2 separate regions of the Homo sapiens genome follow, and region 2 is linked to region 1. The links come from fine-mapping of genetic effects on gene expression. A gene starts in region 1. The other region holds a variant in brackets. All regions are shown on one strand. Distances are from middle to middle.

Region 1 (4,386 bases):
GGTATATAGTAAGCACACAGAATTGATTCACTGTTATCAAAATTGAAGGACAGTGGTTTGATGTGCTAAGCACTCAGTACAAGCCAGAAAGATGTCTTAGAGAAGAAGACAAAGAAATCTCTAGTTCAGGATGAAGAGTACCAAGAATGGCATGTCCTCCAAATTGAGCTTGGGCAGCTGGATCTGAACCTATCCTACACATCTGAGTCTACAGTATGAGGTAACAGTCTCCACCTATAGCTATCTTCTCTGCCTGTAAGGTCATTCCTTTTTGAAGAAAGCTGACCTCAGACTATACTGTGATCATTTAAGGAAGAGCGCAAAATACTGGAGAAGGCTAATCTTCAAGCTCTAGATACAGAAAATCCTCATATTCTTGGGTGTTCCTTTCAGACAGAGTCAGAGCCACAAGCACTGATCCAAAAATCCCGTTCTCCAAAAAAAGTTTCCATCTTCTGCCAAGGTTCACCTCCCTATTTAGTGCACACTGGTGTCTACAGTTGCTACAGCAAGAGCCTTTCCTTATCCTCTAAGGCAGGAGTTGTGTGAAGACCCCATGACAAGGGGACAAAATGAAACAACATGTTTAGGGGCAACACAGGAAAAACCCATATTATCAATGCTCCAAAACCTGGATACCTCAGGCTTGGCCAGTCATTTGTGAGCAGAGAGGTGTGTCATCTACATGGCAGTCATGGCCTGGATGGGTCTGGAACTGTGGCAAGGGAAGTCTCTGAGACAAGGTGCCAGGAGAAAGATGAATTCAATCATCTATTTCTGCCAGGAAGAAAAGCAGGAGGAAGGAATCAGATGCACAGTTTGTCCTCTGGGGACCTCTGCCTTGATCCTCAATAAATCTCCTTTTAGATGTCACCTGCAGCAATTCCCACAGTTCACAATGATCTCCATGGCTTCCGTTGGCCTTATGGTGAGCTCTGCCAAGATCTGTATTCTTGGGCAAGACAGAATCCTTCTGAATCTCAGTCTCTTCCTCTATAAATGGAAATAATTTTGCTCTGCACAAATCACAATTAGCATGTTTGTGGGAAGTCAAACTGTGAAACTCAGCATAACTGAAAAGCAATGTACCACTGTTGCTTATGTGAAAACTCTTGTAAAGCTGTCAGGCACCATGCACCATCTAAGTACAGCAGTGTTAGGTATGAGCCCATCAGTGATTAGAGGGGATGTGGGGTGGAGAGCGGGTCTCTGAGCAGTGGATCTCCTGGCTTTGGGGAAGCTGGCTCGTTGGCCATGCCAGGAGCTGAACCTGAAGGTACTCTGTGTGTCCTCTCAACTCCACGGGCCCCACATTCGCATTTTTTCCAATTCCCTCTGGTTTCCATTTGCTTCCTCCCTCTAGCCCCCTGGCCATGTCCGATCTCAACACGAAGTTTCTGAGCTTTTCTCATTTTGTTCACCATCTCCAGAACATCTCTGCTTCTTTTACTTTTCAAAGAATTTAAACTTGAACTCTGCTCACTCCTGCCCATCACCAACCTGAGCTCAGAGTTGCTGAGAAGGGAAAGCACCCTCATAAGGAAGCTCCTCCTTTCCTTACATCATTAGACTTGATCACAGACAGCATCTCCATCTCCACACTACTCTGGCCAGGTTGTGCCTCAGTCAATTACACAACTGTGTCTTAGTAGCCTTGGTAGGGCCCAAATCAGGATATTCTCTGGGAAGATTCACTTGATACTAAGCCCAGCATAATCTCACTGCATCTAAAATAGAAAATTCTAGACCCACCCCTCCACATCTTCTTATTGATCCCAATATGTGACCCATTTACCATGTGCTAAAATCTCTACCTACTGCTGATTCTCAGATCAGATGGTAACCCAGATTTACCATGGTCCAAACTCTGACATCTGATCAGGGGCATGTCATTCTGGTTCAGGCTGTCAGCCCTGAGCAGGTGAGTCAGTTTGCATCACCCTAAGTGCAGGTTGCCAGGACAACCGTGAGGCTGCATAAAAAGAACCTATGACAGGATGCACATGAGAGAGACAAGTGGCTTCACATTGAAGAAGGGGAGGAGTGCGCCATTGGTTTTCCATCCTCCAGATGCACTGAGTAAGCTCCTACCTAACCTGTGTCCCCTCCTTCTTTGAAACACTTCCCATCCTTTTAAGCCTTGGTAGGAAGGAGAGCCATCTGGAAGCCCAGAATCCTATGGAATGCTAAGTCTCCCTTCTCCTTACCCCTTAGTGTTGGAATTCTGGATACCCAAAGTCTTGGATTTGACCTTTGTGCACAGTGACTGCAAAGAAGCATATTCATATTCACAAAAATGAGCCTTAGATAAGACTTTCCTCCTCTCGTGGGGGCTCCAGGAAACTGAAAAGCCAAGCTTGTTACCAATGCTTGCCCTTCCTTAAGTACATTATTAAATACATCCCCAATAGTTAAAAGGACTCCTAGACACCCAGGCCATTCTCCCTCCTTCTAACCCTCATCTCCTCGGCCTACGAAAGCCCAGCTGTGTGATCCGGGGATTGGTTTCCCCTGTCTTCCCCATCCCAGCATCCTTCCAGGAAATAGCCAGTCTCCCTCTCTGCTCTCAGAAGGCAAGTTTCCTTATCACCTGTGAATCACAAACCCACAGAGTGGCCAAACGTAGCCGAGCTGATGCAAGACCCTGGCAAGGGGAAAGCTGCAGGTGTGTTTGTGCTGGGAAGAACTGTGACCCTCACCTCACAGACACCTCCTCTCCTGATTCTTGGAAGGGTATAAGGACAGGCCTTCCACCACCAGTCAGGCACACTCTACCACCATGAATCCATTCCTGATCCTTGCCTTTGTGGGAGCTGCTGGCGAGTTTCATGACCTGCCTCAGGCCCCACCCACCCCCTTTCCTGGCAGACACATGCCCTGCCATTCTTGCCACCTCTCCTCTTTTGACTGCGCTCTGATATTCTATTTCCTCCATCTGACATATCTCCTTCCCATCCTCCTTGGGCTCTCTTTAAGCCTCACCTGTTTCACCTTTTCCCTCATTTCACTCCCACCACTGTCATTCATCCATATCCGAGCTGTGGTTGGAGAAGCTGGGAAGGGAGACCAGGTGGGGCTGGCCCATGAAATGAAGTGGCAGGCTTCAGGCTTGGCTCCAAGAGCACCAGTATAGCACCACTATAGCTGCTCTTAACCTCGAATGCACCTGGGGAGGTTCAAAAATTACTCATGCCAGAGATTCAACTCTAGAAGTTCTAACTTCATTTGTCTGGGGTGCAGCCTGTGTACTGGGCTTTTAAGCTTCCCAGGTGATTTTTAACGTTTCCAGGCATGCCGCCAAAGTTAAGAATTGCTCTTCTATTGGCCAATAACAAAGTCTACCTTTGTTATGCCAAAGTGAGCCTGGGGCTGCCCTCAACTCTGCCCTCACTGCACAGATCTGAGCTATGGGGGAAGCTAGTCATGGCCAGGTCTACCCAGACAGGGGGTTTTCCTAGCTTAGCCAAAGTATCCTGACAATCCAGGGCTCAAATAGCCAGGGCAAGTACACAGGTGATGAATAAAAGAGAGAAGCACTCAGTGGGTGAGACAACAACATACCAACTGCTACCCCACTGGAAGCATTTTGAGGACATTCCTTGCATCCTCAGCCTGGTGTCCCCAGGAGAGATCTGAGCCCCTGCAGGGTACCTAGCTACGTGCCCTGCAGACACAGAGACTTGGGAGCCACATCCAGTGATGCTCACCAGGGGTGGCAGCGCTCCCTCCCTTGCCTGGCCTCACTGGGCTTGTTAAGGATTTCTAATTGGCAGGAAGCAACCGCAGGCTGGGAGCACCACCCCTAACATGCTACTGACTTGCCTTCTCCCTTCCTATTTCCACTCCAGTTGCTGTCCCCTTTGACGATGATGACAAGATTGTTGGGGGCTACACCTGTGAGGAGAATTCTCTCCCCTACCAGGTGTCCCTGAATTCTGGCTCCCACTTCTGCGGTGGCTCCCTCATCAGCGAACAGTGGGTGGTATCAGCAGCTCACTGCTACAAGACGTAAGTGTGGGGCCCCTGACTGCAAAGCTCCCAGCCAGGCTGCCTGGGAGAGCTTGGCTTCAGCCCAGGGAAGTACTGAGGTTGGGTAAGACGGATGGGAGAGGTGGTGGAAAAGAAAACTTGTTGACAGCAGCTGACTCTCCAGAGCAAGGCCAATCCATGAAACAGCAAGGGTTGTGGTCATAAAAGCAGGCAGGGATAATCTTGGAGTTGTCAGAGCTAGTGACAAAAGCAGGCAAGTACCTTTTGCTGGTTAGCTACACATTAAAGCGACCTAAGACAGAGTTTTTGAAAATACTGATGCCTGTGTCCTACCCCAGGGCAATTAACTCAAACTTCTCAGGAAGACAGTGTGAATACCAGTGAGTATTTAACACT
Region 2 (4,386 bases), 46 kb before region 1:
CTTTTACACTGATGGTGGGAATATAAACTAGTACATCCACTGTGGAAAACTTTATGGAGATTCCTTAAAGAACTAAAAGTAAAACTACCATTTGATCCAGCAGTCCCACTATTGAGTATCTACCCAGAAGAAAAGAAGTCATCATATGAAAAAGCCACTTGCATCTGCTTGTTTATAGGAGCAGAATTCACAATTGCAAAAATATGGAACCAGCCTAAATGCCCCTCGACTGACAAGTGGATAAAGAAAATGTGATATATTTACACCATGGACTACTACTCAGCCATAAAAAGGAATGAAGTAATGGCATTTGCAGCAATTTGTACGGGAGTTGGAGAACATTATTCCAAGTGAAGTAACTCAGGAATGGGAAACCAAATATCATATGTTCTCACTTATAAGGGTTTGCTAAGCTATGAGGACGCAAAGGCATAAGAATGATATAATGTGCCAGGCGCAGTGGCTCACACCTGTAATCCCAGCACTTTGGGAGGCCAAGGCAGGTGGATCATGAAGCCAGAAGATTGAAACCATCCTGGCTAACATGGTGAAACCCTGTCTCTACTAAAAATACAAAAAGTAGTCGTTGTGGCACGTGCCTGTAGTCCCAGCTACTCGGGAGGCTGAGGCAGGAGAATCACTTGAACCTGGGAGGCAGAGGTTGCAGTGAGCTGAGATTGCACCACTGCACTCCAGCCAGGGTGACAGGGCAAGACTCTGTCTCAAAAAAAAAAAAAATAAAAAAAAAAATATATATAATGGACTATGGGGACTCAGGGGTAAGTGAGAGGAGGGTGAGGGATAAAAGACTATACACTGGGTACAGTGTACACTGCTCAGGTGATGAGTACACAAAAATCTCAAAAATCACCACTAAAGAACTTATCCGTGTAACAAAAAATGACCTGTTCCCCAAAAACTATTGAAATTTTTAAAAATGTAAACGTTAGCCATGCGTGTTGATGTACACCTGTAGTCCCAACTACTTAGGAAGCTGTGGCAGGAGTATCTCTTGAGCGTTGGAGGTCAAGGCTACAGTGAGCTATGATTGCACCACTGAACTTCACCCTGGGCAACAAAGTGAGACCCTGTCTCAAACACACACACACACACACACACACACACACACAAACTGGTTTTGTCCTGGTACCTGATTATTATAATTTGAAGCAGAAATTATTTTGTTTAGATTTTTTAATATTAAGAAGCATCTCGGCCAGGCGAGGTGGCTCACACCTGTAATCCCAGCACTTTAGGAGGCCCAGGTGGGCAGATCACCCGAGGTCGGGAGTTCAAGACCAGTCTGACAAACATGGAGAAACCCCAACTCTACTAAAAATACAAAGTTAGCCGGGCCTGGCGGCACATGCCTGTAATCCCAGCTACTCAGGAGGCTGAGACAGGAGAGTCACTTGAACCCAGGAGGTCAAGGCTGTGGTGAGCCGAGATCGAGCCATTGCACTCCAGCCTGGGCAACAAGAGCAAAACTCCCGTCTCAAAAAAAATAAATAAATAAAAGCATCTCTACTCACGATTGAACTATACAATTAAAAGGTCACACCTTTGTTTCACCATGGTAGGCAAGGTAAATATTAAAAAAGAAAATGGCTGTCCATAAAAGGGATCTGGTGACAGAGGATAGCCTCTCCCAGGGTAACAGGCATCCAGGACTCCACTCCATCAACGATTTCTAAAACAAAGGTTGTGAGCAAGTGCTAGGATGAGACGTGTGATTAAGTTTCTGAGCTGACAGCAAATTTAAAAGATGCCCTCCCAGCTCCTGGCTGCGGCCCATCCTCCCTCTAAGGTGCACAACTCCATTATGCTTTTAACTGATGACACTACCTCTTGGCCATTACCACCTCCCACCAGATCCCATTCACTTTGTTTTACCAGGGAAAGATCTGCTCCAGCTAATGCTTTATCCTTCACAGTGATTTTCTTTGACTTTATAGAAAGGGAGAGCCATTTGGTCAAGAGGCTGCCCATCAGATCCTGTGTCCTTCTGCACTGCTAATATCTATCTGTGGCCCTGCTTTAAAACCCAAATACGAACATCTCTTCCATGAAGCCCTTCCTGATTGCCAGTGCCCTCAACAGTGGGATAAACTGCCAGGCATCTTGGAGATCTAGACCCGTGGTTCTCAATCCCGACTTCCCCCGGCCTCCTGAGAAGCTTTTAATAGGTGCATCAGCCCTGGATTCTTACCAGTAGGTCTGAGAGGGAGGCTTAGCGCTTGTGTTCTTTTAATAGTGTGCACAGGGTTGACGGGAAACACACACACACTGTGCAGAACCATTCCACGAGGCTGTGTGTCCGGAATTGGTTCCCTCCAATGGGTTCCTGGTGCCGCTGACTTCAAGAATGAAGCCGCGGACCCTCGCAGTGTTACACTTCTTAAAGACGGTGTGTCCAGAGTTTGTTCCTTCAGATGTTCAGATGTGTCAGGAGTTTCTTCCTTCTACTGGGTTCGTGGTCTATGCACGACTTCATGAGTGAAGCCGCAGACCTTTGCAGTGAGCGTTACAGCTCTTAAAGGTGGTGCGTCCGGAGTTGTTTGTTCCTCCCGGTGGGTTCGTGGTCTGGCTGACTTCAGGGGTGAAGCCGCA[G/C]ACCTTCACAGTGAGTCTTATAGCTCTTAAAGCCACAGTGAGTCTTATGGCGGCTCCAGAGTTGTTTGTTTCTCATGGTGGGTTCCTGGTCTGGCTGGCTTCAGGAGTGAAGCTGCAAACCTTCACCATGAGTGTTACAGCTCATAAAGGTAGTGTGGACCTAAAAAGTGAGCAGCAGCAAGATTTATTGCAAAAGGGGAAAGAACAAATCTCCCACAATGTGGGAGGGGACCCGAACGGGGAAGCTGGCCGCGATGGCCAGCCTTTATTCCCTTATTGGCCCCGCCTGCATCCTGCTGATTGGTCCATTTTACAGAGTGCTGATTGGTCCATTTTACAGAGTGCTGATTGGTCCGTTTTTACAGAGTGCTGATTGGTGTGTTTACAAACCTTTAGCTAGACACAGAGTGCTGATTGGTGCATTTACAGTCCTTTAGCTAGACAGAAAAGTTCTCCAAGTCCCCACCAATTAGCTGGACACAGAGCACTGATTGGTGCATTTTTACAGAGTGCTGATTGGTGTGTTTACAAACCTTTAGCTAGACACAGAGCGCTGATTGATGCTTTTACAATCCTTTAGCTAGACAGAAAAGTTCTCCAAGTCCCCACCAATTAGCTGGACACAGAGCACTGATTGGTGTATTTTCACAGAGTGCTGATTGGTGTGTTTACAAACCTTTAGCTAGACACAGAGCGTAGACACAGAGCGCTGATTGATGCTTTTACAATCCTTTAGCTAGACAGAAAAGTTCTCCAAGTCCCCATCAGACCCAGAAGCCCAGCCAGCTTCACCTCTCAGTAGCTTACAGAAGAGGACCCCGCTGCCACAGCACAATACCACAAAGAAAGTCATGCGCTCCTCAGCAGGAAGCCCCCTTCTCCGGGACAGGGACTTTGTTTCCTTCTCAGCTCTATTGCCAGCACCTAGAACTGTGCCCACCTGTCAGATCTGTTATCAGATGGGAACGTGGCAGATTTGTTGAATGAATGAAGGAATGAATGAACTATGTGACACTCAAACTTAGCCACCAAACTTAAACTAGAAAAACTGGGTTGTGGTCCCTGATGGACCGTTGGTGCCTTCTTCCTTTGCTGGACGGTGATCTGTGGCTGTTTCTCCGGTGTGTTCGCAGTGGTTGCCTGGCTTGGTAACAAACACTCTTCAGAGCCACAGCCTGTGCTCGGGCTCCTCGCCGCCTCCCAGGCCCTGCGATCTCTTTGCATCCCAGGAGGTCCCGGTTGGTTGCAGTCCTCCTGGGTGACTCAGGAACCAGCCTCTCCTGAAGCACACAGCCTAGGGAGTTCCTGGGGCCAGAGACATCTCCAAGGGAAGGTCAAGGGCCTGGAGGATGTGCGGACCTGACGACAGATGCCCCGCACGCTGGCCGGGACCGGGAAGGGCGGTCAAGTGTGGAAAGGGTCTGGCGGCTGCCAGGCCTGGCAGAGTGGAGCGGGGCGGGGCGCAGCGGGGCGGGGCGGGCCTGGAGCTGCACCCGCTTCTGGGTGGACGCACTTGGCGAGCGGCGCGGGATGCAGACGGCTGCGAGGCGCTGGGCACAGGTCAGACGTCAGTACCCGCAGGGGGCTTGAAACTGGAGGAGGGCTCGAAGGGAGAGGGAGCCCCGCCAAGGAGCGGGGCTGTGATGGAGAGGGGGTTCCGACTCGCATGGGACCTGCGGGGGAGGGTACGCGGACAGGGAGGGGATACCGACTGGGAGGGGCTCAGGGACAGGGATGGAGGCTCCTCTAGGGGAGGACGGGAGGGGATGGAGGGCC

What was found. PIP is the estimated chance that this variant, and not a neighbour inherited with it, causes the effect.
Region 2: its variant is the best candidate, but not a certain one, in a credible set for the expression of PRSS3 in whole blood (TOPMed, PIP 0.86).

The regions. Positions count from the first base shown.
Region 1 is chr9:33,792,795-33,797,180 of GRCh38, forward strand. PRSS3 (serine protease 3) reads left to right here and starts at 2,767. Exons shown (of 5, transcript NM_002771.4): 1 at 2,767-2,819; 2 at 3,849-4,008. The coding sequence starts at 2,780. All of the region lies in intron 3 of UBE2R2-AS1 (UBE2R2 antisense RNA 1), which reads right to left. RefSeq lists an enhancer at 3,316-3,816.
Region 2 is chr9:33,746,558-33,750,943 of GRCh38, forward strand. All of the region lies in intron 3 of UBE2R2-AS1 (UBE2R2 antisense RNA 1), which reads right to left. It also overlaps a transcript of PRSS3 not described here. Among named protein-coding and RNA genes, the nearest start is that of PRSS3, 47 kb to the right of the region's middle. The variant G/C (reference allele first, on the strand shown) is at 2,611.